Linked DNA regions of Homo sapiens. Changing the gene in region 1 together with any one later gene gives a genetic interaction. Each region holds a gene or a part of one and is shown in the gene's direction. Other genes may lie near its edges. The genes, in order: FLT3, PCDHA13, GAGE12F and GAGE1.

Region 1 (7,022 bases):
AATGTATCCTTTACAGGGACATTGCCTGATTGTCTGTGGGGAGTAGAGTATATGTAGAGTGGTTGTTAGGACTGAAAATGATTATTACTGAAACAGGATGTGAGAGATTATAATGAGTTGTCCACTATTTATAATGTCACACAGGAATTCTGTTTCATCGCTGAGTGACACTCTTTTGTTGCAGGCCCCTTCCCTTTCATCCAAGACAACATCTCATTCTATGCAACAATTGGTGTTTGTCTCCTCTTCATTGTCGTTTTAACCCTGCTAATTTGTCACAAGTACAAAAAGGTAAAAGCAAAGGTAAAAATTCATTATTCTTTCCTCTATCTGCAGAACTGCCTATTCCTAACTGACTCATCATTTCATCTCTGAAGCAATTTAGGTATGAAAGCCAGCTACAGATGGTACAGGTGACCGGCTCCTCAGATAATGAGTACTTCTACGTTGATTTCAGAGAATATGAATATGATCTCAAATGGGAGTTTCCAAGAGAAAATTTAGAGTTTGGTAAGAATGGAATGTGCCAAATGTTTCTGCAGCATTTCTTTTCCATTGGAAAATCTTTAAAATGCACGTACTCACCATTTGTCTTTGCAGGGAAGGTACTAGGATCAGGTGCTTTTGGAAAAGTGATGAACGCAACAGCTTATGGAATTAGCAAAACAGGAGTCTCAATCCAGGTTGCCGTCAAAATGCTGAAAGGTACAGTATAGTGGAAGGACAGCAACAAAGATGCACAAAAATGGGAGGCACAGTTTCCCACCCATGCCTTCTTCTCTTTTCCATCCTTTTAATGGTTACTGTTTGCCATGTTTCAAGGCTAAAAATGGAGTGGATTGGGGTGTCAACCCAGTCATGAATACAAAATTCAAGTCATAAATACAAAACTCCACCTCTTCTTCCACTTCTCTCTTTGTTTATTTTTATTTTCTTTTATTTTTTTGAGACAGGGTCTCACTCTGTCACCTAGGCTGGAGTACAGTAGTGTGATCATGGCTCACTGCAGCCTCCACCCCCTGGGCTCAGGCTCCTCAGCAGCTGGGGCTACAGGCGTGCACCACCACGCTCAGCTAAGTTTTTTATTTTTGGTAGAGACGGGGTTTCACCATGTTGCCTAGGCTGATCTGGGACTCCTGAGCTCAAACTATCTGCCCGCCTCGGCCTCCCAAAGTGTTGGGATTACAGGCGTGAGCCACTGTGCCAGGCCTATTTAGTTTTTATAGGCTTTGATATTTGGGGATACAGTTGCCACAGGCAGAAGTTCTTTCTTACATTTGTGTTGTTTTATTTTTAGAGACAGGATCTTGCTCTGTTACCCAGGCTAGAGTGCTGTGATCATAGCTCACTGCAGCCTCGACCTCCTTGGCTCTAGCAATGCTCTCACCTCAGCCTCACAGGAGTGTGCCAAGACAATTGGCTAATTTTTTTTTTTTTTTGTAGATACGGTGTCTCACCATATTGCCCAGGATGGTTGCAAACTCCTGGCTCAAGTGAGGCTGCCTTGGCCTCCTAAAGTGCTGGGATTACAGGTGTGGGTTGAAACAGACTCTGGGTAGGAGAGAAAACTGGGGCCCTTTGTATCCTCACTTCGTTGCTCCATCCATTCCGATCTGGCGTCCAGCCCCATTGCTGGCCTCACCGTTACCACCGCTGACCCAGCAAAAGCATCTCCAGCTGGCTCTCTTGCTAAGGTCAACAGTGACTTCAAACCAAACCAAGCCTAATGGATATTTTTCAGTCCTCATTACTTGATTGTTCAGCATGAATTGATGCTGTTGATTCTTCTCTCCATCCAGAAGCTTTCTTTCTTTGGGTTTTGTGTCACCATATTCTGGTTTTCCTCCCACCCCTCTGCCCTTCTCAGTCCTTTGTGGGCTCATCTTCTTCCATCCAGCTTTTGTTGTTGTGGCTGATTTTGAAACTCAGTCCTTTGTGGGCTCATCTTCTTCCATCCAGCTTTTGTTGTTGTGGCTGATTTTGAAACACAGCCTTGCTCTGTTGCCCAGGCTGGAGTGCAGTGGTGTGATCTCAGCTCACTGCAACCTCCACTTCCCAGGCTCAAGCCATCCTCCCACTTCAGGCCCCTGAGTAGGGGGGACTACAGGCATGCGCCACCATGCCTGGCTAATTTTTGTATTTTTGGTAGAGATGGGGCTTCGCCATGTTGCCCAGGCTCCATCCAGCTTTTTATGGGGCATCCCTGTGGGCTTGCTCCTGGACCGCCTTGCGTTTTCGCTCCACACACTCAACACAGTCCATCCCCACTACACCCGTGATGTCCTCCCATACACCAAGGGCCCTCATGCTTGCGTCTCCTTTCGGAGCTTCAGGTTCATATGTTAAATGTTTGGATGTCTCAAAGGTCCCTTTAACACAGTGTATGCAAGGTGAATTCCCCTAACCCTGGCCCTGCACCAGCAGTCCTCTCTGTGACTGGTAATGAATGCCAGTGAATAAATAACCACATTCTATATAGTTGGGCACACTAGAAACCCGTGACTTTTCCTTGACACCTTCCTCTTTCTAACACCCTGTGAGCTAATCCTATCAGGTTTCCGATTAGTGTCTCTTGATTCCATCCTCGTCCCTCCATCTCTATGACCACCACTCTAGTTCAAGGCTCTCTCCTGGACAAAAGCTTCCAAAGCAGGTTCCTGTATCCACTCTTGCCTCCCTTTGGCTTCTCCATACTGAGGTCCAAGTGACAGTGGCGAAAGGCTAAGCAGATCAAATGGCTTTCCTACTTCACATTTCCTCCACCACCCGCATGGCTGGGCCACCGCTGCCTCCCCACCTCTTGCTCTCGGCACCCCAGAGCGCTGGCCTTCTTTCAGTTCCCCCAGCACTGTCCTCCCACCCACTGTGGGGCCTTTGCACAAGTGGATCCTTCTGCTTCCCCTTCCCCTTTCATGTAAGTATCTCCCACTGCCCCCTCAGATCTCAGCTTAAACACCACTTCCTCTGTCTCACACCACAGACAATATTGAGGCCCTTGCAATGTGCGACATTAGCTCTCTGCAGGCTTTCCCCCGTAGAATCCATCACCTTTGTCATGACATTTTTTAACATCCAATTGTTGTCCCATCTGTCCAGTAGCCCCTGTGCCTCATGAGGGCAGGGTCTGTGTCTGTGGTGCTGTGCTCTCTCCTTTCTCGACCTTTGCCCACTCTTTCACAACCCTCAGCACTGTTCTCCTCCCCTTCCACCATGAGTCACCTGGCCAGCTCCCATTTTTCTTCAGGACTCAGTTTAGACATTGAATGCTCCTTTCTCCACCCCTCCAAGGCTAAGGTAGCTATCCCTTTTGACCCTACAGTACCCCTGCACTCCTTTGCCACGTTGCATTTTTTCTTCTTTTTTTGAGACGGAGTCTCACTCTGTCGCCCAGGCTGGAGTGCAGTGGCACCATCTCAGCTCACTGTAAGCTCCGCCTCCTGGGTTCACGCCATTCTCCTGCCTCAGCCTCCCTAGCAGCTGGGACTACAGGCACCCACCACCACGCCCGGCTAAATTTTTTTGTATTTTTAGTAGAGACAGAGTTTCACCGTGTTAGCCAGGATGGTCTTGATCTCCTGACCTCGTGATCCGCCTGTCTCAGCCTCCCAAAGTGCTGGGATTACAGGCATGAGCCACCGTGCCCAGCCCAACGTTGCATTTTTTCTTTTTCTTTCTTTTTTCTTTTTTTGAGATAGGGTCTCACTCTGTCACCCAGGCTGGAGTGCAGTGAAGTCATCATAGCTCACGGCAAGCTTCAAGTCCTGGGCTCAAGTGATGGTCTGCAGCCTTTCCAGTAACTGGAACTACATGCAGGCACCACCAAGCCCAGCTAATTTTTATTTTATTTTATTTTATTTATTTATGTATTTTTACTTTATTTTATTTTTAAGTAGAGACAAGCTCTTGCTATTTTGCCCGGGCCTTTCTTGAACTTCTGGGTACCAGCAATTCTCCCGCTTGTCTCAGCCTCCCAAGATGTTGGGATTAGAGGCGCGGGGACCCACGTCTTGCCTGCCGTATTGCATTTATGGCACTGTATTGTCATGGCTTATTTACTTCTCTGCCTTCTCCAGGAGACTCTAAGATCCAGGAAGACAAGGGTTGTGTCTTGTTTTTCCTTCATTCCCCAGTGTCTAGGACATTGGCTCTTACAGAGTAGGCACTCAATAAATACTTGTTGAATGACTGAATGAAAGAGGTAATGGTACATGAAAATGCTTAGAAGAAGCTAAGCATGCTAAAAAATGTAAGATATTATTTTAGCCATGAGGAATAGGACATGAACAAGTAAAGCCCCGAATCCCTGTCCAGCGTGAAGCTGAAGACATGATGTATTAGGGGGTCCCAGTGCCCACAGGAAATCCCACCCCCAAGCTAAAATCTTGGAAACAAGGATACCCCTGAGAGCTTGCCCAAACCAAAATAGAGGATGTCAGCACCGGAGAAGCCACTATAAAGGTTAGGATGCCTTCCTGGACAAAATAATGGAACCTGGCAATCGAACCAAATCTTCACTGAATGTAAAGAAGAGTTACTATATCTGGAAGAAAAAGTCTGTTCACAGAGGGGTGGTGCCTGGAGCCTGGAGAGGGAAGTCCAGAGACCCTGCCCTTGCCCCTGTGGCTGCCCGGGCTGCCCTGACCAACTGCACATGAGCCGCAATGACGGGAGCCCTTGGATTCCATAGTGACTTTCCTCACACTGTGCTTCTAAGTCAGCTTATAAGTACAGTTTGCTGAGCTATCTGGAATTTTCCCTAGAGAGAGAATGCATTGGCCAACCAATATGTTCTAGCCTGCTTGGCAGTTTTATTTCTCAATGTCAATTAATGGGTCTCTTGAGCACCTGATAGTGGGAATTAGTCCTCTTTGACCTTCTCCCATTGGACTTGCTGGCAAATCTAATGTTCTAGACCTGAGGGCCACAGGCTAGAGTCAACCATGCTCACGACACTGTTATCTCTCTCTGACTACAACAGATCCAAGAGTTCAAACAAACAAACAAAAAGGACGTTTCTCCCTTCTGTTAACTTGTACTGAGGAGGAAAAGCATGTGTTATTATTTTGTTTGTTTGTTTTGAGGGCCAACTGTAAGGATTTTTATTTTGGTAGGTAGAGGAAAGTCCTGTTGAAAGGTGCATTACCAGATTCAACATTTATACTATAGTCTTTGTTTTGTTTTGTTTTGTTTTGTTTTTGAGACAGAGTCTCGCTCTGTCACCCAGGCTGGAGTGGTGCAGGGGCTCAATCTCGGCTCACTGCAACCTCTGCCTCCCCAGTTCAAGGGATTCTTTTGCCTCATCCTCCTGAGTAGCTGGAATTACAGGTACGCACCGGCACGCCCGGCTAATTTTTTGTATGTTTAGTAGAGACAGGGTTTCACCATGTTGGCCAGGTTGGTCTTCAACTCCTGACCTTAAGTGATCCACCCGCCTTGGCCTCCCAAAGTGTTGGGATTACAGGTGTGAGCCACTGCGCCCAGCCCTATACTACAGTCTGAATTCTGCCTTAGGCTGGGCATGGTGGCTCATGCCTGTATTCCCAGCACTTTGGGAGGCGGAGTTGGGAGGATTGCTTGAATCTAGGAGTTCAAGACCAGCCTGGGCAACATGGTGAGACCCCATCTCTACAAAAAATATAAAAATTAGCTGGGCATGATGGCCTGTGCTTGTAGTACCAGTAACTTGGAGGGCTGAGGTAGGAGGATCACTTGAGCCCAGGAGGCAGAGGCTACAGTAAGCTGAGATCATGTCACTACACTCCAGCCTGGGTGACAGAGTGAGATACTGTGTCAAAAAAAAAGAAAGAAAGAAAAGGAAAAAAAAAAAAGAAAAAGGAGAAATTCTGTCTTAAAACACAGGATATTGTTTGTTTGTTTATTTATTTATTTATTTTAAGATGGAGTTTCACTCTTGTTGCCCAGGCTGGAGTGCAATGGTGCAGTCTCAGCTAATTGCAACCTCTGCCTCCCACATTCAAGCGATTCTCCTGCCTCATCCTCCCAAGTAGCTGGGATTACAGGTGCCTGCCACCACGCCTGGCTAATTTTTGTATTTTTAGTAGAGACGAGGTTTCACCATATTGGCCAGGCCAGTCTTGAACTTCTGACCTCAAGTGATCCACCCACCTCGGCCTCCCAAAGTGCTGGGATTACAGGCATGACCCACCATGCCTGGCTTCTCTCATAATTTTGAATTTAAATAAATAATGCAGATTGACTCTGAGCTGAGAAAAATTTTATTTAATGACATAAAATTCGTATTTTACTTGAGTTTTACATTTTTAATGCTCCTTTCTTTGACAGAAAAAGCAGACAGCTCTGAAAGAGAGGCACTCATGTCAGAACTCAAGATGATGACCCAGCTGGGAAGCCACGAGAATATTGTGAACCTGCTGGGGGCGTGCACACTGTCAGGTAACCCACTTCCACGAAAATCACCTCATCAAAAAGACTGTAGCTTGATGACAAAGAGGATGTTTGCTCTCTCTCTCTCTCTCTCTCTTTTTAATTCTTTGTCTTTTCTCAGTCACAGTGTGAACTCTCAAACCCAAGTGGAATTAGACACTGAGCACTCTATAAATCAGAGGGGTCAAAATAAAGAATGCCTCATTCATCTGCTTTATCGTGATATATTGCATAATTCTCACCTGCTTAAAAACAACAACAACAACAACATTGCAAGTACATTTGGTGGTGTCTGTGCTTCTCTCCCAGCTTGGAAGCTGGTGCACAGGCGTGGTGAGAGTGGTTACAGAGCCTGGCCACTGCCCCAGTTGGGCTGCCGTCAAATACGGCACAGCCTAGCTAGGATATCAGACTTTACTTTCCCAGAATTCTCTGGGGCATGCCCTCTGATCTTCTCTCTTCTGCCTAGAAATACCCAAATGATGTGCCCAAGGTTCATTCTTTCTGCAGCAGCAGGCCTGGGGCTGGTACTAAAAGAAAGGAAAAAGAGGAAAGTGAATCTGAGAGAGGACTGGGAATATATTTCTCCCTCCTCAAGCAAACAGCAAATCAGCATA
Region 2 (8,021 bases), on another chromosome or scaffold:
CGCTGCAGGTGTTCGTGCTGGACGAGAACGACAACGCGCCGGCACTGCTGGCGACTCCGGCTGGCAGCGCAGGAGGCGCAGTTAGCGAGTTGGTACCGCGGTCGGTGGGTGCGGGCCACGTGGTGGCGAAAGTGCGCGCGGTGGACGCTGACTCCGGCTATAACGCTTGGCTGTCCTACGAGTTGCAACCGGCGGCGGTCGGCGCGCACATCCCGTTCCACGTGGGGCTGTACACTGGCGAGATCAGCACGACACGCATCCTGGATGAGGCGGACGCTCCGCGCCACCGCCTGCTGGTGCTGGTGAAGGACCACGGTGAGCCCGCGCTGACGTCCACGGCCACGGTGCTGGTGTCGCTGGTGGAGAACGGCCAGGCCCCAAAGACGTCGTCGCGGGCCTCAGTGGGCGCTGTGGATCCCGAAGCGGCTCTGGTGGATATTAACGTGTACCTCATCATCGCCATCTGTGCGGTGTCCAGCCTGCTGGTGCTCACGCTGCTGCTGTACACTGCGCTGCGTTGCTCAGCGCCGCCCACCGTGAGCCGGTGCGCGCCGGGCAAGCCCACGCTGGTGTGCTCCAGCGCCGTGGGGAGTTGGTCTTACTCGCAGCAGAGGAGGCAGAGGGTGTGCTCTGCAGAGAGCCCGCCCAAGACGGACCTCATGGCCTTCAGCCCAAGCCTTCAGCTGTCTCGAGAAGATTGTTTAAATCCTCCCAGTGAAGTAAGTTATTAATATTATTTAGATATATTTGTTTCCTTGAAGAACTTCCGTTTAGGTTATAACTACATTCTCTCATTTTTCTTTATGATTCTATCCTTTAAACTATCGAATGTCTCATCTTTCTTGGTCATTCTTACTCATTTTGAACTTTTATGTATTTGTCTAACATTAATGAAGGAAATATGTAGGTACAATGGAGGCCATGGAGCACCACACTTAATATTTTTCTTTTTCTATAATATTTTATATGACTGATGAACCTTGAAAAAAACAGTATATTAGATTAAAAAGTGGCCAGATGTTTGATAACTTAAAAATTTAATTTGTTCATAATTTCAAGATTACAGGTAAGTTGCAAGAATGGTACAAAGAGTTCCTAGATCCCATTAATGGATTCTTTAACTCTTCCTCACGTGCTTAGGCTTTTAAAATAGCCTTCTTGATCACTATTCTAATTTCAGTACAATCTAGACATTTTCACATTATATTCCAGGTATTATCACAATAATATAAATGATATGTCTGACATATGATGAATGATTTTCTTCATTGCTCACAAAATATCTTCTTTATTTCAAGTAGGAATAGATACTGTACTATTCTTATTTACATGAAATATAATAAAATCATTTCTCAATTTAAAAATATTTAACCATCTGTACGATACAGTACAGTTGGTAACCAACTGTGGCTCAAACCAGTTTCAGATGATCCCAAACTTATCATAGTATACCACTGCCCTGTGCCTATTACCAAGTGAATCTTCTAATGTGCATTTTACATATTTTAACTTTCTATTTCTACAAAAATATCCAGAGGCTTCTCTTTAACCAGGGAATAAAGTCTTACATACCCCAGCCTGGTAGTAAAGGCATTAAAATTTCCAGCCTTATATCTACTTTCTTACATATCTTTAGTTTAGGATCTGGAATATAGTATATGTTCAATCACTTTTTAAAAACATATGGGGGTCTTGCTATGTTGCACAGGCTGGACTAGAACTTCTGGGTTCAACTGATCCTCCATTTCAGCCTTTCAAGTAGCTGAGACTACAGGCAGGCTCCACCACTCCCAGCTTCAATCAATAATTTTAAATAAATATATGGTATTGAAATGTATTACCTGGACATTCCCCTCTATCTTAGAAATGAGAGTATGCCCTAGAAATCAGATAATGTTTTATTGAAGAGTGTCTTGAAAGATAGACAACATTTTACCAAGAAAGTGTTAAGAGAGATAAGTAGGAACAACTGCACAGTATATGGTGTAATTGAAGGATTAGAGCAGGGGAGATTGTGAAGGCAGGAAAGCTATTTCTTTTTTAATAAATTAGGTATCAAGTAATGGAGACTTAAATTATGGCAGTAGAAATGAATTGAAAAAGACATATACAAGAGGCACTGGCAAAGTAGAAGCAGCCAGATAATGACAGACTCAATACAAATGATAAGAGAAAAACAAAAGTAGAAGTTGACTCTCACTTTTTTAGTTTGTTCAGCTGAGAAGATGACATTGCCATTAACCAACCTGCAGAACAAGGTTGGAGAAACAGTTTGTGTGTATTTGAGCAGGTAGGGAATGGAGATGAACATTTAAGAAAATGTTACTTTGAAGTCCTAAGAGAATACCGTTGTGATTGGAAATATGGGTCTGGATCTCAGAAGAGATTATTGATATAGATTTTGGGAACAACTCCTTTAGAGAAAAAAATAATCCATGAAAGAATAAAATTGCCAAGACAGACATTGAAAAGTGAAAAACAATGTGTCCAGGTACTTAGGTGGGTAAGTGTGTCGCTTCCTGTGGCTGCTATAACAAACGAACACAAACTGGGTGCTGTAAAACAGCAAAAGTTTATTATTTCTCAGTATTGGAGACCAGAAGTCCAAAATCAAGGTGTTGTCAAGGCTATACTCTCTTTGGAGGCCCCAGGGAAGAATCTGGTTTTTGTTTCTTCCAGTTTCTATTGGCTGTTGGTGTTCCCTGGCTTGTGGCTGTACCACTCCCATCTCAGCCTTCTCAGCTTTCATGGTCACATTGCCTCCTCCTCTCCATGTCTCTCTCTATGTGTTGGTTTTACAAAGGTACATGTGATTGTATTTAGGGCCCATCTGGATAATCCAGGATAAACTCCTTTCAAGATCCTTAACTTAATCATATTATTCACCATATAAAGTAAAATCCACAAGTTCCAGGGATTAAGATGTGGGCATAACTTTTTGGGGACCACAATTCAACCTATTATAGTAGGCTTAAAATCATAGAAGGATAGACAACAGGAAGCTGAAATAAAGCTCAAAGTGCAATATATCAAGTATATGTTAGAAGTTAAACATGAAGGGAAAAAGATAAACAGAAGAGGTTTTCCACCAGAAGTAGAACATTTAAATTAGTGTATGTGCGTGTGTGTATGTATACATATTTTAGTTAAAGAAGTTTGACTATCTTCATAGTGTGAGTGAAAGAAACAAGTAAAAAATAAGATACTAAAAATAAGACAGGCAGCAGGTGAATTTAGATGAAAACCATGAGAGAATAGAAAATAATTTTTAAGAGCATATGGTTGACCTTAAAAGCGGGAACAGTTTTTCCTTACAACTAGTAGAAAATGAAAACAGATAATATAAGGAAAAATGACACAAGAAGAGAGCAATTGAATTTCTGTTTGGTCACATCTCTCAATGTGTGAATCATCTGAAAGTGAACTGATGGAAATGAGGTTGAGAATTTGAGAAGAGAGGAAAGAGAATATGGAAGAATCTCTGTAAGCAAGAGGGAGGAGTTAATTATCAATTCACTTGAGAGCCCAACTGAGGTAAAGGTGAGAGTAAATTTGAAGAGAATAGTCATGGTTAAGTGACAATGTTGAGCAGCTTAATAGGAAGCATAGAGAAAATGGATTGTCAGTGTAACTGCGTGTTGGAGGCTAAAAAGAATGTTAGAGGAGTAATATAAATAGGTGAATGACTCTAGAGTGTCTGGAAGGGCATATTTTAAATGGTTGACTATGTAGTCTAATTATGTGAAGAGGTAAATAAAGAAATGTAGGGCCAGATAGAAAGAATTAGAAGAGAAATACTATGTTAGTAAAAGTAATGGAGCAGGAGAGGATGATGAGGGTAAGAGAATACCAAATACTCTGCCTAAATTTTCAGAGGAGAGCAGAGCTATGGAAATAAACCCAACAGTCATTTCCTATAGAGTTGTGCACAGAACAGGCCAGATAATTATTGGAGCTATGATATATTTTTCATTACACCATTTGGCCTGGGATTTTGTGGCTTGGTAGAGATAGTTATAACAATAGATAAAAGTAAGATCCTCTTCCTCTTTTCCTTGCTAAAGATATGTTAACATCTTTGTCTAGCTGTTGTTTCTTGGAAAATTAAAGTCAATTTAAATGACGGCAAGGTTTTACTCAGTGATGATGAAGTAAGATGGAGAGAGAAAATGGAAACTTTAACCTCCTGGTTAAATTCTATTTAACCAGGACGCCGATTCGGGCTACAATGCGTGGCTTTCGTATGAATTGCAGCCGGCGGCGGTAAGTTAAATTCTATTAAATCAATAGGATATTAGTTCCAGGCATATTTTATAAAAACAGAATCCAAAACCTTAGAGCATTGTTGTGGCTAAATTATTGTGTTTATGCACATACACACACTCACATACAAAATCCCACACATATTGACTGAACACTTTCTTTTGAATATAAATATCTTATCTACATCTCAAGTCACATTGAGGGAAATTTATTAATATGATGTGCTTATTCAAAATCTGATATATCAGTTACCAATATTTTTCACCTTCACCGATTTTATTCTTATGTGATTGTTATGTTTCCTTTTGGAGTCAATGGCTGTTGTGTGAGGAGGTCTTGAAAAATATTACAGGAAGAGGACAGTACCACAAAAACCTACATGACTATGCAGAACTACCGATCAATTGTCCCAAAACGAGTGTCGAATATTCTTTGTCTTAAAGTTCTGCATGGAATTCTTACACATGGAAAAATAAATTTGTGGCAAAATGAAACTCATCAACCAATTGTCAGCTAATATAAAATGTTGAGCAGAATGCAGTGATTTGCTGTTTCTGGGAAGGTAAACATTTAATCTTCAATTACATATTTGCAGTGAAAATGTCAGGAAATGCAAGGGGCAAAAAAATACTACATCAATGGAAAATATGAAGACTGAGTCATACTTACACTTACACGTTCATGCGCATGGTGTCGCTCTTCACTGAGAACGTTTCCGCGAAGAAAGCCGCCGTTTCTTTCTTCCTGCAGAAAATATAGCAGAAAGCGGAATACCTCTTGCGAATCCTTCCGCACTAGGAAGCCATAAAAATTGGGCCTTGAGAGACAGTTTGAGGTAAGGCGTTGTATATATTGCAGATAGCTCTGAGGTTTTTGGAGTGTACCATGCTGTCTTCCTGGCAAGGAGGCCCAAGACCGCGGCAACTACTGCTCTGGCTTCTGATCCTCGCAGCCTGGGAGACGGGTAGTGGCCAGCTCCACTACTCCGTCCCCGAGGAAGCAAAACACGGCACCTTCGTGGGCCGCATCGCTCAGGACCTGGGGCTGGAGCTGGCGGAGCTGGTGCCGCGCCTGTTCCGGGTGGCGTCCAAAAGACACGGGGACCTTCTGGAGGTAAATCTGCAGAATGGCATTTTGTTTGTGAATTCTCGGATCGACCGCGAGGAGCTGTGTGGGCGGAGCGCGGAGTGCAGCATCCACCTGGAGGTGATCGTGGACAGGCCTCTGCAGGTTTTCCATGTGGAGGTGAAGGTGAGGGACATTAACGACAACCCGCCCATATTCCCTGAAAGCAAGAAACGAATAATCATTGCAGAATCTAGACCTCCGGAAACTCGATTTCCACTAGATGGCGCATCCGATGCAGATATTGGAGTAAACTCGGCATTGACCTACCGACTGGATCCCAACGATTATTTCACTTTGGACGCACAAAACAGTCTTGAGCAAATGTCTTCATTATCACTTGTACTGAGGAAAACACTGGACAGAGAGGAAATTCAGGAACATAGTTTATTACTGACAGCCAGTGATGGAGGTAAACCCGAGCTGACTGGCACAGTTCAGCTGCTCATCACGATTCTGGACGTGAATGACAACGCCCCGGAATTTTACCAATCCGTTTATAAAGTGACGGTGTTAGAGAACGCCTTCAATGGAACATTAGTGATCAAGCTAAATGCCACAGATCCTGATGATGGTACAAATGGAGATATAGTTTACTCATTTAGAAGGCCTGTATGGCCTGCAGTGGTATATGCATTTACCATAAATCCGAACAATGGAGAAATTAGGACAAAAGGCAAACTAGATTTCGAAGAAAAGAAATTATATGAAATATCCGTGGAGGCAGTTGACAAAGGAAATATTCCAATGGCGGGTCATTGTACCCTTTTGGTGGAAGTACTAGATGTAAATGATAACGCCCCAGAGGTTACCATCACTTCTTTGTCACTCCCCATCAGAGAAGACACTCAGCCTAGCGCCATTATTGCCCTAATCAGTGTGTCCGATCGTGACTCTGGCTCAAATGGACAGGTCACCTGCACCTTGACGCCGCATGTCCCCTTCAAGCTGGTGTCCACCTACAAGAACTACTACTCATTAGTGCTGGACAGCGCCCTGGACCGCGAGAGCGTATCAGCCTATGAACTGGTGGTGACCGCGCGGGACGGGGGCTCGCCTTCGCTGTGGGCCACGGCCAGCGTGTCGGTGGGGGTGGCCGACGTGAACGACAACGCGCCGGCGTTCGCGCAGCCCGAGTACACGGTGTTCGTGAAGGAAAACAATCCGCCGGGCTGCCACATCTTCACGGTGTCTGCTCAGGACGCGGACGCACAGGAGAACGCGCTGGTCTCCTACTCGCTGGTGGAGCGGCGGGTGGGCGAGCGTGCGCTGTCGAGCTACGTGTCGGTGCACGCGGAGAGCGGCAAGGTGTACGCGCTGCAGCCGTTGGACCACGAGGAGCTGGAGCTGTTGCAGTTCCAGGTGAGCGCGCGCGACTCTGGCGTGCCGCCTCTGGGCAGCAACGTGACGCTGCAGGTGTTCGTGCTGGACGAGAACGACAACGCTCCGGCGCTGCTGACGCCCGGGGCTGGCAGCGCGGGAGGCACAGTGAGCGAGCTGATGCCGCGGTCGGTGGGTGCAGGCCACGTGGTGGCGAAGGTGCGCGCGGTGGACGCCGATTCGGGCTACAATGCGTGGCTTTCGTATGAATTGCAGCTGGCGGCGGTCGGCGCGCGCATCCCGTTCCGCGTGGGGCTGTACACTGGCGAGATCAGCACGACGCGCCCTCTGGACGAGGTGGACGCGCCGCACCACCGCCTTCTGGTGCTGGTGAAGGACCACGGTGAGCCCGCGCTGACGGCCACGGCAACGGTGCTGTTGTCGCTGGTGGAGAGCGGCCAAGCGCCACAGGCTTCGTCGAGGGCGTCGGCAGGCGCTGTGGGTCCAGAAGCGGCGCTGGTGGATGTCAATGTTTACTTGATCATTGCCATCTGCGCGGTGTCCAGCCTGTTGGTGCTCACGTTGCTGCTGTATACTGCGCTGCGGTGCTCGGCACCGCCCACCGAGGGCGCGTGCGCGCCGGGCAAGCCCACTCTAGTGTGCTCCAGCGCGGCAGGGAGTTGGTCGTACTCGCAGCAGAGGCGGCCGAGGGTGTGCTCTGGGGAGGGCCCGCATAAGACGGACCTCATGGCCTTCAGTCCCAGCCTTCCTCCTTGTCTGGGTTCTGCAGAGGGAACAGGCCAGAGGGAGGAGGACTCAGAATGCTTGAAAGAGGTAAGCTTATATTTTAAAAAATTGTCTTAGTAAACACTTTAGCCTTCCTTGCAGTTGTTTGTTTAAGACATCTTTCCTGCCAATTTCAAATTATTCTTTACTTTAATTTTAATTTTGCTAGTTGTTATCGAATTTAACAACTCTGCTGTGGACATTATGTGTTGGATTATCCTTCAGAGTGAAATCTTAACTCACAAACCATAATGAAATGTGCAAAACAAGAATATTTTGTTTCTGTTGTATTCTTAATAGTTCTAAGTATTTATCTTGCAATTGAGCATTTACAAAAAATTCCTCACGTTGTGAGAACTTAAACATTTAGAAAATGTTTGTTTTAATGAGGCTAATCGTAATCTTAAATTTAAAAAATTTTTAGTTTAATGTATACATATACCCACAAGATATTATTTTAAAGAGCCCCATAACTTTTCACATAAATGCTTTTTTTAAGTGCACTTTTCTTTCTTTCTTTTTTTAAA
Region 3 (7,519 bases), on another chromosome or scaffold:
TGCACAGGTTGTTCCCGAACTCCTGACCTCAGGTGATCCACCTGCCTCGACCATTGAAATTGCCGGGATTACAGGCGAGAGCCACCGTGCCCGACCCAGCATTATATTTTTAATAACGGAGAGGTAACAATACTGCCTCTTTAGTAACAGAGTTCTTATATAAAGGTTATTTGAAACGTAGTTCAGGCCCCAGCACCCGACTGATAGACTGTCAGGTAGGGAAACAAACTGAGTCAAAGCTATGTTGAATTAAAAGTTTTGAGTGTAAATCCTTAAACCAGTAGCTCACAATTTTCAGATGCTTTTGTAAAGGTCTGCTTTTAATCAATACATAACACGTTTGTAACACCCATCACTTGGTGTGAAAAATGCTGAAGCACTCATGCGGGTTCTAATACCAGCTCTTACAGCCTTGGCGAGATTCTGAGTGAGTCCTTTCCCTTCTAAACCTATCTTTGGTTCTTATGAAAATAGTGAGTTTAAGTCAGAGATTTTAAAACCATTTTGCATTCCGTTTCTTTCATACTCTGATCCTGTTGCATAGAATGCGTGGGACACAGAGATCATCTGCTTCGCATGGTTTGTTAATCACAAATCATGAAACCCTGGCCCGAGTCATCTGAAAATCTCTGAATTGAGATTTCATTGTCAGTAAGACAGTGAGCGGGCCCTCTGCTTCATCCTAGTTTTTCCGTGTGGAGAGCTGAATACGTAGTGTAAGATCTTGTGAAATTGTGAATTCTCCCTCTTCTTGGTTTGTTTGTTTGTTTGCGACAGAGTCTCAGTGTGTCACCCAGGCTGGAGTGCAGTGATGCAATTTCAGCTCACTGCAACTTCTGGCTCCCAGGCTAAAGCCGTCCTCCCACCTCAGCCTCCCGAGTGGCTGGAACTACATGCACAAGCCACCGTGCCTGACTACATTTTTTTGTTTTCATTTTTGTAGAGATGAGGTCTCACTGTGTTGCCCAGGCAGGGTTTCTCTGGCTTTTAATGAACAATTGCTTCTTTTTTTTTCTTTTATTTATTTATTTATTTATTTATTTATTTATTTATTTATCATTATACTTTAAGTTTTAGGGTACATGTGCACGTTGTGCAGGTTAGTTACATATGTATACATGTGCCATGCTGGTGCGCTGCACCCACTATCTCATCATCTAGCATTAGGTACATCTCCCAGTGCTATCCCTCCCCCCTCCCCCCACCCGACAACAGTCCCCAGGGTGTGATATTCCCCTTCCTCTGTCCATGTGATCTCATTGTTCAGTTCCCACCTATGAGTGAGAATATGCGGTGTTTGGTTTTTTGTTCTTGCAATAGTTTACTGAGAATGATGATTTCCAGTTTCATCCATGTCCCTACAAAGGACATGAACTCATCATTTTTTAGGGCTGCATAGTATTCCATGGTGTATATGTGCCACATTTTCTTAATCCAGTCTATCGTTGTTGGACATTTGGGTTGGTTCCAAGTCTTTGCTATCGTGAATAATGCCGCAATAAACATACGTGTGCATGTGTCTTTATAGCAGCATGATTTATAGTCCTTTGGGTATATACCCAGTAATGGGATGGCTGGGTCAAATGGTACAATTGCTTCTTAAAACTTTCCCCACGGAAACCTTGAGTGACTGAAATAAATATCAAATGGCGAGAGACCGTTTAGTTCGTATCATCTGTGGCATGTAGGTCAGTGATGCTCAGCATGGGTGTGAGTAAGATGCCTGTGCTATGCATGCTCCCTGCCCCACTGTCAGTCTTCATGAGCCACTATTTCTAATAAGACTGTAGACACACATACGATATAATCATCTCTAATCATATCAAATGTTACATGTAAGTTTCACCTTTAGAGACATGAATTGATAAGATTTGAAGTTGAAAGACCATGACTCTAGTACTTCCTGAGTAATCAACTGAAGTATGCTTTACACATGTGTTTTCCAAATTGCTGACTGTTAATTGTAAGTGCTTGTGACTTGAAAGGAAGCACTTGATGTTCAGGGAGGAAATTCCTTTTAAATTCTGCAGGTCTACGCTCAAAGTTTATGCAGAGGTTCAATTGCGTGTAAGACACGGGATCACCCATAGGGTTCTGTTTTTAGTCCATTTAATAAAACCCAAACTGTAGTGTGCTTTGTATGCCTTTAGGGTCATCTGAATAATCTGTTGCTAAGTCATGTTCCCAATCGTTGTGTTTCTGTTACAGGTGAAAAGCAATCACAGTGTTAAAAGAAGACACGTTGAAATGATGCAGGCTGCTCCTATGTTGGAAATTTGTTCATTAAAATTCTCCCAATAAAGCTTTACAGCCTTCTGCAAAGAAGTCTTGCGCATCTTTTGTGAAGTTTATTTCTAGCTTTTTGATGCTGTGAAATATGTATCATTCTTTGAAATCGTGTATTGTAACTCTCTGAGCTGGTATGTAGAGACATCGTTCTTTTTTTTTTCTTTCTTTCTTTGTCCTCTTTTGAGACGGAGTCTTGCTCTGTCGCCCAGGCTGGAGTGCAGTGGCGCGATCTCTGCTCACTGCAACCCCGCCTCCCGGATTCAAGCAATTGTCTGCCTCAGCCTCCCGAGTAGCTGGGATTATAGGCACCCACCAGCACGCCTGGCTAAGTTTTGTGTTTTTACTAGAGATGGGCTTTCGCCATCTTGGCCGGGGTGCTCTTGAACTCCTGACCTCGTGATTCACCTGCCTTGGCCTCCCAAAGTGCTGGGATTACAGGCATGAGCCTCCGCGCCCGGTGGAGACATAATTCTTACATATTGGTTTTCTATCCAGCGGCCTTGTGAAATATGCTTGTGAATTCTAAAGTTTACTTCTAGGTCGTTTTCAGTCTTCAATATACAGAAACATATCATCCTGGAATAAGAGCAGTTTTGTTTCCGCCATATTTTTTTCTTTTCCCTTTTGTATTTTTTTGTAGAGACGGGGTTTTGCCATGTTTCCCGGGCTGTTGTTGAACTTTTGAGTGCAAGTGATGCACCCACCTCACCTCCCACAGTGCTGGGATTACTGGCGTGGGCCACCGTGGCGGGCCCGTCGTTGCCATTGTAAAGAGTTTTATTTCCTTTTCTGATTTTATGGCATTGCGCAGACCCACCCGTTACAATGGTGACAGTGGACATCCTTGTCTTATCCCTGATGAGAAACCGAAAAATTTCAACATTTCACCATCCTATTCACTCTCCTTTTTTTGTAGACGGACTTTATCAGAGTGAGTCATTGCATTCTGTTCCAAATTTGCTGAGAGTATTCATTTGAATATATGTTGATTTTCATCAAACAGTGCATCTATTTCGATTACCACAGCGTTTTTTCCCATTCATGTGTTAATATAGTGAATTCGATTGATAAATTTGTACGTTTTTAGGTTCGATTATTAAAACTTGAGACAGCGTCTCACTCTGTCACCGAGGCTGGAGTGCGGTGGTGTTATCAGAGCTCGCTGCAGCCTTGACCTCCTGGGCTCAAGCGCGCCTCCCACCTCAGCCTCCTGAGGAGCTGTGAGTATAGGTACATGCCACCATGCCCAGCTAATTTTTCGATGGTTTTTTGTTTGTTTTTTGTAGTGATGAGATTTTCTGATGTTGCTTAGGCTGGTCTCGAAGTCCTGAGCTCAGGTGATCTGGCCAGCTCAGCCTCCCAAAATACTAGGATTACAGGCGTGAGCCTTGGCCTGGTCTGGTTTTTCTTATATAGGGGTCTTATCTATATAAAGACTAAAGTTAATCTGTGCCTTTGTGCGGGTGGGCTAAGAGCATGATGACTTTTATCATTCTATTGATTTAAAGAAAACTGTCCTTGACTTACCAGTGTGTAAGTCCATGAAAGCATAATTCTGTTGAAAGCATATATTGTTAATGGGTGTTGGGAACCGTGCACTTTCCGCTGCTGTGGGAGCATGTCCTTGGAGGTACCTTTCATCTGTTTTCTCAACTCCAAACATCTTAGGACCATGGGTTGTGACTGGTAGGACTATGTATCTTGCTGCTTTCAAGACGGAGTATATTTTCACGTGGTGTCACTCTGGCTGTCCTGTTTCCCTAATACTGTCACTTCACCCTCTGCGATTCTGATGCTACAAATGATAGATATCGTTTTAGCATTTTCTTACGGGTCCTAGCGATTCTATTCATTTTTCTTTCAGTCTCTTTCTCTGACTTGTTCACATTGAACAATTTCCTTTTGGGATAGGTTGCTATTTCTGTTTTCGCAGGTGGTTTACCTGTCTTCCCAGCCAGTCACAGTGGTCCTTGTCCCCATGGTGGGTCCGGGGCAAGAGAGGGCCCTGGGTTGGGGGTGGGGTTCAGTTGAAGATGGGGTGAGTTTTGAGGGGAGCACTACTTGAGTCCCAGAGGCATAGGAAACAGCAGAGGGAGGTGGGATTCCCTTATCCTCAATGAGGATGGGCATGGAGGGTTTGGGGCGTGGCGCTGGGAACGGCAGCCCTCCCCAGCCCACAGCCGCGCATGCTCCCTGGGCTCCCGCCTCAGTGCGCATGTTCACTGGGCGTCTTCTGCCCGGCCCCTTCGCCCACGTGAAGAACGCCAGGGAGCTGTGAGGCAGTGCTGTGTGGTTCCTGCCGTCCGGACTCTTTTTCCTCTACTGAGATTCATCTGGTAGGTGTGCAGGCCAGTCATCCCGGGGGCTGAAGTGTGAGTGAGGGTGGAGAGGGCCTCGGGTGGGTCAGGCGGGTCCCGCTTCCTGGTCTGTGGCCTCCGAGGGAGAAGGGCCACGAGGTCGTCCTCCTTCCCTTCACAGGCTGCGAGGCCACCGGCGGCTTCGTGGTCGTGAAGGGGCCTGGACGGGGAGGAAGGTGGGCCGTGGAGGGGAGGCGGTCAGGGGCTCAGGTGAAGACGGGGTGAGTGCTGTTGGGGGGATGGAAGTCCCGAGGTGCCGGGATCCCCGACGACACAGGGCAGATTCCCTGAATGGGGCCCCCGGCGGGGGCGAGGCGGGCGGTGAAGAAGGGGCCTGGCACCTGGGAAGGCTGCGGCCTGGCGAGCGCCCCCTCAGCGGTGTGGAGTGCGGAGCGCCCGAGTGAGAAGCACTGCAAGGTCTCACCTCCGCCATGGAAGGTCCGAAAACAGTGGGAAGGAGTGGGCGAGGCAGTGCGGTCCAACCAAACTTGTTGTGAGTGGGGGTGAATGGCTCTAGGAAGTGGGAGTGTGCCCAAAGCAGCAATCACGAGAATTGTGATTCACTAGGGTTTTCGTGGGGAGTGCACTTGTGAAACTAAACCTCATCAGAAATGACCTCTGTCTGCGGGGCGCAGTGGCGCTCGCCTACGTATTCCCAGTTACTGGGGACACTGAGGTGGGAGGATCCCTTGAGCGGGAGGTCGAGGCTGCAGTGAGCTGTGATCACGCCGCTGCACTCCAGCCTGAGCAACACAGCGAGACCGCGTGTCCAAAAGAAATTTAGAAAAAAATGTCCTCTGCCTTTTGCCACACGCCTTAAGATGATTGCTCTGCCAGCCTGGCCAGCAGAAGTGGCTTTGTAGGCACTCAGACAGCGTACACACGTATGCTTAACTCTGGGACTTATTTTGAGAGTATTTTCAAAAGTAAAACGGCAAGTTAACATTTATCCATGGAAGTGATCGAATATAGCAGCCCTCTGGAGCGCACGTTCCCAATCACGGTTGTCTGTTTTCAGTGTGAAATATGAGTTGGCGAGGAAGATCGACCTATTATTGGCCTAGACCAAGGCGCTATGTACAGCCTCCTGAAATGATTGGGCCTATGCGGGTGAGTGCTTAAACGTTAATTCGATGTTTTCTATTAGTAGAAATTAATTTTTGTGATAGCGTCGTTGCATTAGTGTGGAAATGCTGATAAAGGTCTTTCCTGCTCATAAAAAATGAGGATGGCATCTCATGAAGGAAACATTGATTCTGGAGGATTTTTTTTTTCCTCTCGTGTTCTTCAGCTTTTGCCCATGACTTCTTTCTCCGGCTTTGTTTGTTAATGACAGATTGTACACATGTATTCCAACACAGAGTATAATAGCCCCCAAAGTCCTCGTGCGTCACTTTTCTCACAGTAACCTCCCTGTGGGTGGAGTAACCTTATTGGGCATAGAGCATAGAGTTGGAGAAATGTCTTTAGGCTTAGTTAGGACCAGAAATAGCTATGTATTCTGTGTATATATGTAAAATTTTGTATCAATAACGAAACTTATTTTTTATTTGCACACCCACACGTATTCCCCAGCCCGAGCAGTTCAGTGATGAAGTGGAACCAGCAACACCTGAAGAAGGGGAACCAGCAACTCAACGTCAGGATCCTGCAGCTGCTCAGGAGGGAGAGGATGAGGGAGCATCTGCAGGTCAAGGTGAGGGAAAGGGAAGAAGAACGTCTGCTGGTGTGTGCGTGTGTGTGTGTTCGTGTGTGTGTGTGTGCACGTGTGTGTGTGTGTGTTAGGCATTGTCACATAGGAGGAAGAGGAGGAAAGAAAACAATGGAAAGAATGCCTGAAATTGACTGGAAAAGCGAGGAGGCTATGTAGTTCGCAGCTTAGCTTAGGCAAATCCCTCACTATGGTAAAAGATCTCGACTTTATGAATGAGAGAATGGAGGTGCCAGGATTGTGTGTTATCCAAGAACCCTTGACTGGTGAATACAACATTTGTACTGTGTTCCAAGGTTTGTGTCTTCCTATCATGTATGTTGCTGTAAAGAAGGAAGTGATTTTGCTGAAAATGCTTAAAACTCAAAAGGCTTTACTGTAAGGTAGCTTAGTACTGACCCAAGAATAGACCCAGTTCAGAGGAGCAGGAGCAGCTCCAAAAACCGAGTCGCTGAATGTTGGCCCCCGTTTCCTTTGATTGATATTTTTATATGGTACGTTTGATAAAAGCTGGATAAATGAGGATACTGCCATACAGGTAGCTGGTTTAGTGATTTTTCTCAGCGGCCTTTAGGAGGTGATTAAATCCTTTTATGGTTAGAAAAGCAAAAACGGAATTATCCTGAGATTAACGTGAGATGGAAATAATTTCTCCGAGATAAAATGTTTTGAAAGGAAGCATTTATGTAACGGAGGTCATGGATTATTCCAGGGATGCACTGTTAAAAGTTCCTAGAATCTGACTGACAACAATGCCCATTAATTGCTGTCCGCCCACTCCCTTATTCTCAGTGCGGGGGACAGTATATTTTCTGTGATTCACAAACAATGTTATATTTGGTGCTTTGTTCTTCACGGGGTTCATTTATGGAATATTACCTTTAGGACCTTCGGACCTAAATATAACTTTATTTGAACAAAGTGAAGTTTCTCTTTACCCCAATAGGTAATGGGTGTCGTGACTGTAAGATTTCCATAGTCCTCAAATCCATCCAGCTAATCAATCCTTCAGAAACTGACATTGTAATTGTAACTGAAATCCTACCCACGTGGTAGACTTCAGATTTCTCAGCTGACGCACACTGCTGTTGGTACTCTAGGGCTGAATATAAGCATTATACATGTCCTGTGGTTTATCCTTAGATTGTCATTTAGGAGAAAG
Region 4 (6,846 bases), on another chromosome or scaffold:
TTTCCGTGTGGAGAGCTGAATACGTAGTGTAAGATCTTGTGAAATTGTGAATTCTCCCTCTTCTTGGTTTGTTTGTTTGTTTGCGACAGAGTCTCAGTGTGTCACCCAGGCTGGAGTGCAGTGATGCAATTTCAGCTCACTGCAACTTCTGGCTCCCAGGCTAAAGCCGTCCTCCCACCTCAGCCTCCCGAGTGGCTGGAACTACATGCACAAGCCACCGTGCCTGACTACATTTTTTTGTTTTCATTTTTGTAGAGATGAGGTCTCACTGTGTTGCCCAGGCAGGGTTTCTCTGGCTTTTAATGAACAATTGCTTCTTTTTTTTTCTTTTATTTATTTATTTATTTATTTATTTATTTATTTATCATTATACTTTAAGTTTTAGGGTACATGTGCACGTTGTGCAGGTTAGTTACATATGTATACATGTGCCATGCTGGTGCGCTGCACCCACTATCTTATCATCTAGCATTAGGTACATCTCCCAGTGCTATCCCTCCCCCCTCCCCCCACCCGACAACAGTCCCCAGGGTGTGATATTCCCCTTCCTCTGTCCATGTGATCTCATTGTTCAGTTCCCACCTATGAGTGAGAATATGCGGTGTTTGGTTTTTTGTTCTTGCAATAGTTTACTGAGAATGATGATTTCCAGTTTCATCCATGTCCCTACAAAGGACATGAACTCATCATTTTTTAGGGCTGCATAGTATTCCATGGTGTATATGTGCCACATTTTCTTAATCCAGTCTATCGTTGTTGGACATTTGGGTTGGTTCCAAGTCTTTGCTATCGTGAATAATGCCGCAATAAACATACGTGTGCATGTGTCTTTATAGCAGCATGATTTATAGTCCTTTGGGTATATACCCAGTAATGGGATGGCTGGGTCAAATGGTACAATTGCTTCTTAAATCTTTCCCCACGGAAACCTTGAGTGACTGAAATAAATATCAAATGGCGAGAGACCGTTTAGTTCGTATCATCTGTGGCATGTAGGTCAGTGATGCTCAGCATGGGTGTGAGTAAGATGCCTGTGCTATGCATGCTCCCTGCCCCACTGTCAGTCTTCATGAGCCACTATTTCTAATAAGACTGTAGACACACATACGATATAATCATCTCTAATCATATCAAATGTTACATGTAAGTTTCACCTTTAGAGACATGAATTGATAAGATTTGAAGTTGAAAGACCATGACTCTAGTACTTCCTGAGTAATCAACTGAAGTATGCTTTACACATGTGTTTTCCAAATTGCTGACTGTTAATTGTAAGTGCTTGTGACTTGAAAGGAAGCACTTGATGTTCAGGGAGGAAATTCCTTTTAAATTCTGCAGGTCTACGCTCAAAGTTTATGCAGAGGTTCAATTGCGTGTAAGACACGGGATCACCCATAGGGTTCTGTTTTTAGTCCATTTAATAAAACCCAAACTGTAGTGTGCTTTGTATGCCTTTAGGGTCATCTGAATAATCTGTTGCTAAGTCATGTTCCCAATCGTTGTGTTTCTGTTACAGGTGAAAAGCAATCACAGTGTTAAAAGAAGACACGTTGAAATGATGCAGGCTGCTCCTATGTTGGAAATTTGTTCATTAAAATTCTCCCAATAAAGCTTTACAGCCTTCTGCAAAGAAGTCTTGCGCATCTTTTGTGAAGTTTATTTCTAGCTTTTTGATGCTGTGAAATATGTATCATTCTTTGAAATCGTGTATTGTAACTCTCTGAGCTGGTATGTAGAGACATCGTTCTTTTTTTTTTCTTTCTTTCTTTGTCCTCTTTTGAGACGGAGTCTTGCTCTGTCGCCCAGGCTGGAGTGCAGTGGCGCGATCTCTGCTCACTGCAACCCCGCCTCCCGGATTCAAGCAATTGTCTGCCTCAGCCTCCCGAGTAGCTGGGATTATAGGCACCCACCAGCACGCCTGGCTAAGTTTTGTGTTTTTACTAGAGATGGGCTTTCGCCATCTTGGCCGGGGTGCTCTTGAACTCCTGACCTCGTGATTCACCTGCCTTGGCCTCCCAAAGTGCTGGGATTACAGGCATGAGCCTCCGCGCCCGGTGGAGACATAATTCTTACATATTGGTTTTCTATCCAGCGGCCTTGTGAAATATGCTTGTGAATTCTAAAGTTTACTTCTAGGTCGTTTTCAGTCTTCAATATACAGAAACATATCATCCTGGAATAAGAGCAGTTTTGTTTCCGCCATATTTTTTTCTTTTCCCTTTTGTATTTTTTTGTAGAGACGGGGTTTTGCCATGTTTCCCGGGCTGTTGTTGAACTTTTGAGTGCAAGTGATGCACCCACCTCACCTCCCACAGTGCTGGGATTACTGGCGTGGGCCACCGTGGCGGGCCCGTCGTTGCCATTGTAAAGAGTTTTATTTCCTTTTCTGATTTTATGGCATTGCGCAGACCCACCCGTTACAATGGTGACAGTGGACATCCTTGTCTTATCCCTGATGAGAAACCGAAAAATTTCAACATTTCACCATCCTATTCACTCTCCTTTTTTTGTAGACGGACTTTATCAGAGTGAGTCATTGCATTCTGTTCCAAATTTGCTGAGAGTATTCATTTGAATATATGTTGATTTTCATCAAACAGTGCATCTATTTCGATTACCACAGCGTTTTTTCCCATTCATGTGTTAATATAGTGAATTCGATTGATAAATTTGTACGTTTTTAGGTTCGATTATTAAAACTTGAGACAGCGTCTCACTCTGTCACCGAGGCTGGAGTGCGGTGGTGTTATCAGAGCTCGCTGCAGCCTTGACCTCCTGGGCTCAAGCGCGCCTCCCACCTCAGCCTCCTGAGGAGCTGTGAGTATAGGTACATGCCACCATGCCCAGCTAATTTTTCGATGGTTTTTTGTTTGTTTTTTGTAGTGATGAGATTTTCTGATGTTGCTTAGGCTGGTCTCGAAGTCCTGAGCTCAGGTGATCTGGCCAGCTCAGCCTCCCAAAATACTAGGATTACAGGCGTGAGCCTTGGCCTGGTCTGGTTTTTCTTATATAGGGGTCTTATCTATATAAAGACTAAAGTTAATCTGTGCCTTTGTGCGGGTGGGCTAAGAGCATGATGACTTTTATCATTCTATTGATTTAAAGAAAACTGTCCTTGACTTACCAGTGTGTAAGTCCATGAAAGCATAATTCTGTTGAAAGCATATATTGTTAATGGGTGTTGGGAACCGTGCACTTTCCGCTGCTGTGGGAGCATGTCCTTGGAGGTACCTTTCATCTGTTTTCTCAACTCCAAACATCTTAGGACCATGGGTTGTGACTGGTAGGACTATGTATCTTGCTGCTTTCAAGACGGAGTATATTTTCACGTGGTGTCACTCTGGCTGTCCTGTTTCCCTAATACTGTCACTTCACCCTCTGCGATTCTGATGCTACAAATGATAGATATCGTTTTAGCATTTTCTTACGGGTCCTAGCGATTCTATTCATTTTTCTTTCAGTCTCTTTCTCTGACTTGTTCACATTGAACAATTTCCTTTTGGGATAGGTTGCTATTTCTGTTTTCGCAGGTGGTTTACCTGTCTTCCCAGCCAGTCACAGTGGTCCTTGTCCCCATGGTGGGTCCGGGGCAAGAGAGGGCCCTGGGTTGGGGGTGGGGTTCAGTTGAAGATGGGGTGAGTTTTGAGGGGAGCACTACTTGAGTCCCAGAGGCATAGGAAACAGCAGAGGGAGGTGGGATTCCCTTATCCTCAATGAGGATGGGCATGGAGGGTTTGGGGCGTGGCGCTGGGAACGGCAGCCCTCCCCAGCCCACAGCCGCGCATGCTCCCTGGGCTCCCGCCTCAGTGCGCATGTTCACTGGGCGTCTTCTGCCCGGCCCCTTCGCCCACGTGAAGAACGCCAGGGAGCTGTGAGGCAGTGCTGTGTGGTTCCTGCCGTCCGGACTCTTTTTCCTCTACTGAGATTCATCTGGTAGGTGTGCAGGCCAGTCATCCCGGGGGCTGAAGTGTGAGTGAGGGTGGAGAGGGCCTCGGGTGGGTCAGGCGGGTCCCGCTTCCTGGTCTGTGGCCTCCGAGGGAGAAGGGCCACGAGGTCGTCCTCCTTCCCTTCACAGGCTGCGAGGCCACCGGCGGCTTCGTGGTCGTGAAGGGGCCTGGACGGGGAGGAAGGTGGGCCGTGGAGGGGAGGCGGTCAGGGGCTCAGGTGAAGACGGGGTGAGTGCTGTTGGGGGGATGGAAGTCCCGAGGTGCCGGGATCCCCGACGACACAGGGCAGATTCCCTGAATGGGGCCCCCGGCGGGGGCGAGGCGGGCGGTGAAGAAGGGGCCTGGCACCTGGGAAGGCTGCGGCCTGGCGAGCGCCCCCTCAGCGGTGTGGAGTGCGGAGCGCCCGAGTGAGAAGCACTGCAAGGTCTCACCTCCGCCATGGAAGGTCCGAAAACAGTGGGAAGGAGTGGGCGAGGCAGTGCGGTCCAACCAAACTTGTTGTGAGGGGGGGTGAATGGCTCTAGGAAGTGGGAGTGTGCCCAAAGCAGCAATCACGAGAATTGTGATTCACTAGGGTTTTCGTGGGGAGTGCACTTGTGAAACTAAACCTCATCAGAAATGACCTCTGTCTGCGGGGCGCAGTGGCGCTCGCCTACGTATTCCCAGTTACTGGGGACACTGAGGTGGGAGGATCCCTTGAGCGGGAGGTCGAGGCTGCAGTGAGCTGTGATCACGCCGCTGCACTCCAGCCTGAGCAACACAGCGAGACCGCGTGTCCAAAAGAAATTTAGAAAAAAATGTCCTCTGCCTTTTGCCACACGCCTTAAGATGATTGCTCTGCCAGCCTGGCCAGCAGAAGTGGCTTTGTAGGCACTCAGACAGCGTACACACGTATGCTTAACTCTGGGACTTATTTTGAGAGTATTTTCAAAAGTAAAACGGCAAGTTAACATTTATCCATGGAAGTGATCGAATATAGCAGCCCTCTGGAGCGCACGTTCCCAATCACGGTTGTCTGTTTTCAGTGTGAAATATGAGTTGGCGAGGAAGATCGACCTATTATTGGCCTAGACCAAGGCGCTATGTACAGCCTCCTGAAATGATTGGGCCTATGCGGGTGAGTGCTTAAACGTTAATTCGATGTTTTCTATTAGTAGAAATTAATTTTTGTGATAGCGTCGTTGCATTAGTGTGGAAATGCTGATAAAGGTCTTTCCTGCTCATAAAAAATGAGGATGGCATCTCATGAAGGAAACATTGATTCTGGAGGATTTTTTTTTTCCTCTCGTGTTCTTCAGCTTTTGCCCATGACTTCTTTCTCCGGCTTTGTTTGTTAATGACAGATTGTACACATGTATTCCAACACAGAGTATAATAGCCCCCAAAGTCCTCGTGCGTCACTTTTCTCACAGTAACCTCCCTGTGGGTGGAGTAACCTTATTGGGCATAGAGCATAGAGTTGGAGAAATGTCTTTAGGCTTAGTTAGGACCAGAAATAGCTATGTATTCTGTGTATATATGTAAAATTTTGTATCAATAACGAAACTTATTTTTTATTTGCACACCCACACGTATTCCCCAGCCCGAGCAGTTCAGTGATGAAGTGGAACCAGCAACACCTGAAGAAGGGGAACCAGCAACTCAACGTCAGGATCCTGCAGCTGCTCAGGAGGGAGAGGATGAGGGAGCATCTGCAGGTCAAGGTGAGGGAAAGGGAAGAAGAACGTCTGCTGGTGTGTGCGTGTGTGTGTGTTCGTGTGTGTGTGTGTGCACGTGTGTGTGTGTGTGTTAGGCATTGTCACATAGGAGGAAGAGGAGGAAAGAAAACAATGGAAAGAATGCCTGAAATTGACTGGAAAAGCGAGGAGGCTATGTAGTTCGCAGCTTAGCTTAGGCAAATCCCTCACTATGGTAAAAGATCTCGACTTTATGAATGAGAGAATGGAGGTGCCAGGATTGTGTGTTATCCAAGAACCCTTGACTGGTGAATACAACATTTGTACTGTGTTCCAAGGTTTGTGTCTTCCTATCATGTATGTTGCTGTAAAGAAGGAAGTGATTTTGCTGAAAATGCTTAAAACTCAAAAGGCTTTACTGTAAGGTAGCTTAGTACTGACCCAAGAATAGACCCAGTTCAGAGGAGCAGGAGCAGCTCCAAAAACCGAGTCGCTGAATGTTGGCCCCCGTTTCCTTTGATTGATATTTTTATATGGTACGTTTGATAAAAGCTGGATAAATGAGGATACTGCCATACAGGTAGCTGGTTTAGTGATTTTTCTCAGCGGCCTTTAGGAGGTGATTAAATCCTTTTATGGTTAGAAAAGCAAAAACGGAATTATCCTGAGATTAACGTGAGATGGAAATAATTTCTCCGAGATAAAATGTTTTGAAAGGAAGCATTTATGTAACGGAGGTCATGGATTATTCCAGGGATGCACTGTTAAAAGTTCCTAGAATCTGACTGACAACAATGCCCATTAATTGCTGTCCGCCCACTCCCTTATTCTCAGTGCGGGGGACAGTATATTTTCTGTGATTCACAAACAATGTTATATTTGGTGCTTTGTTCTTCACGGGGTTCATTTATGGAATATTACCTTTAGGACCTTCGGACCTAAATATAACTTTATTTGAACAAAGTGAAGTTTCTCTTTACCCCAATAGGTAATGGGTGTCGTGACTGTAAGATTTTCCATAGTCCTCAAATCCATCCAGCTAATCAATCCTTCAGAAACTGACATTGTAATTGTAACTGAAATCCTACCCACGTGGTAGACTTCAGATTTCTCAGCTGACGCACACTGCTGTTGGTACTCTAGGGCTGAATATAAGCATTATACATGTCCTGTGGTTTATCCTTAGATTGTCATTTAGGAGAAAGGTCTAAAGCTGGGCTGAA

What was found.
Region 2: changes in FLT3 (region 1) and PCDHA13 together harm fitness less than expected from each alone (positive genetic interaction), as found in Homo sapiens cells (one study listed by BioGRID).
Region 3: changes in FLT3 (region 1) and GAGE12F together harm fitness less than expected from each alone (positive genetic interaction), as found in Homo sapiens cells (one study listed by BioGRID).
Region 4: changes in FLT3 (region 1) and GAGE1 together harm fitness less than expected from each alone (positive genetic interaction), as found in Homo sapiens cells (one study listed by BioGRID).

What each region holds. Positions count from the first base shown.
Region 1 is NC_000013.11:28,027,570-28,034,591, reverse strand, and holds part of FLT3 (receptor-type tyrosine-protein kinase FLT3 precursor), read left to right. Parts: intron 1-184; coding exon 185-291; intron 292-377; coding exon 378-510; intron 511-600; coding exon 601-705; intron 706-6,303; coding exon 6,304-6,414; intron 6,415-7,022. UniProt on the Homo sapiens protein: Tyrosine-protein kinase that acts as a cell-surface receptor for the cytokine FLT3LG and regulates differentiation, proliferation and survival of hematopoietic progenitor cells and of dendritic cells.
Region 2 is NC_000005.10:140,877,121-140,885,141, forward strand, and holds the start of PCDHA13 (protocadherin alpha-13 isoform 1 precursor), read left to right. Parts: upstream 1-5,003; 5' UTR 5,004-5,148; coding exon 5,149-7,542; coding exon of another isoform or gene 7,543-7,572; exon of another isoform or gene 7,573-7,760; intron 7,761-8,021. Other genes in the region: PCDHA12 (protocadherin alpha-12 isoform 1 precursor), read left to right, coding at 1-719. UniProt on the Homo sapiens protein: Potential calcium-dependent cell-adhesion protein. May be involved in the establishment and maintenance of specific neuronal connections in the brain.
Region 3 is NC_000023.11:49,556,325-49,563,843, forward strand, and holds the start of GAGE12F (G antigen 12F), read left to right. Parts: upstream 1-4,517; 5' UTR 4,518-4,625; intron 4,626-5,664; 5' UTR 5,665-5,672; coding exon 5,673-5,756; intron 5,757-6,221; coding exon 6,222-6,342; intron 6,343-7,519. Other genes in the region: GAGE12E (G antigen 12B/C/D/E), read left to right, coding at 2,209-2,231.
Region 4 is NC_000023.11:49,595,195-49,602,040, forward strand, and holds the start of GAGE1 (G antigen 1), read left to right. Parts: upstream 1-3,825; 5' UTR 3,826-3,933; intron 3,934-4,972; 5' UTR 4,973-4,980; coding exon 4,981-5,064; intron 5,065-5,529; coding exon 5,530-5,650; intron 5,651-6,846. Other genes in the region: GAGE2A (G antigen 2A/2B), read left to right, coding at 1,517-1,539. UniProt on the Homo sapiens protein: Antigen, recognized on melanoma by autologous cytolytic T-lymphocytes.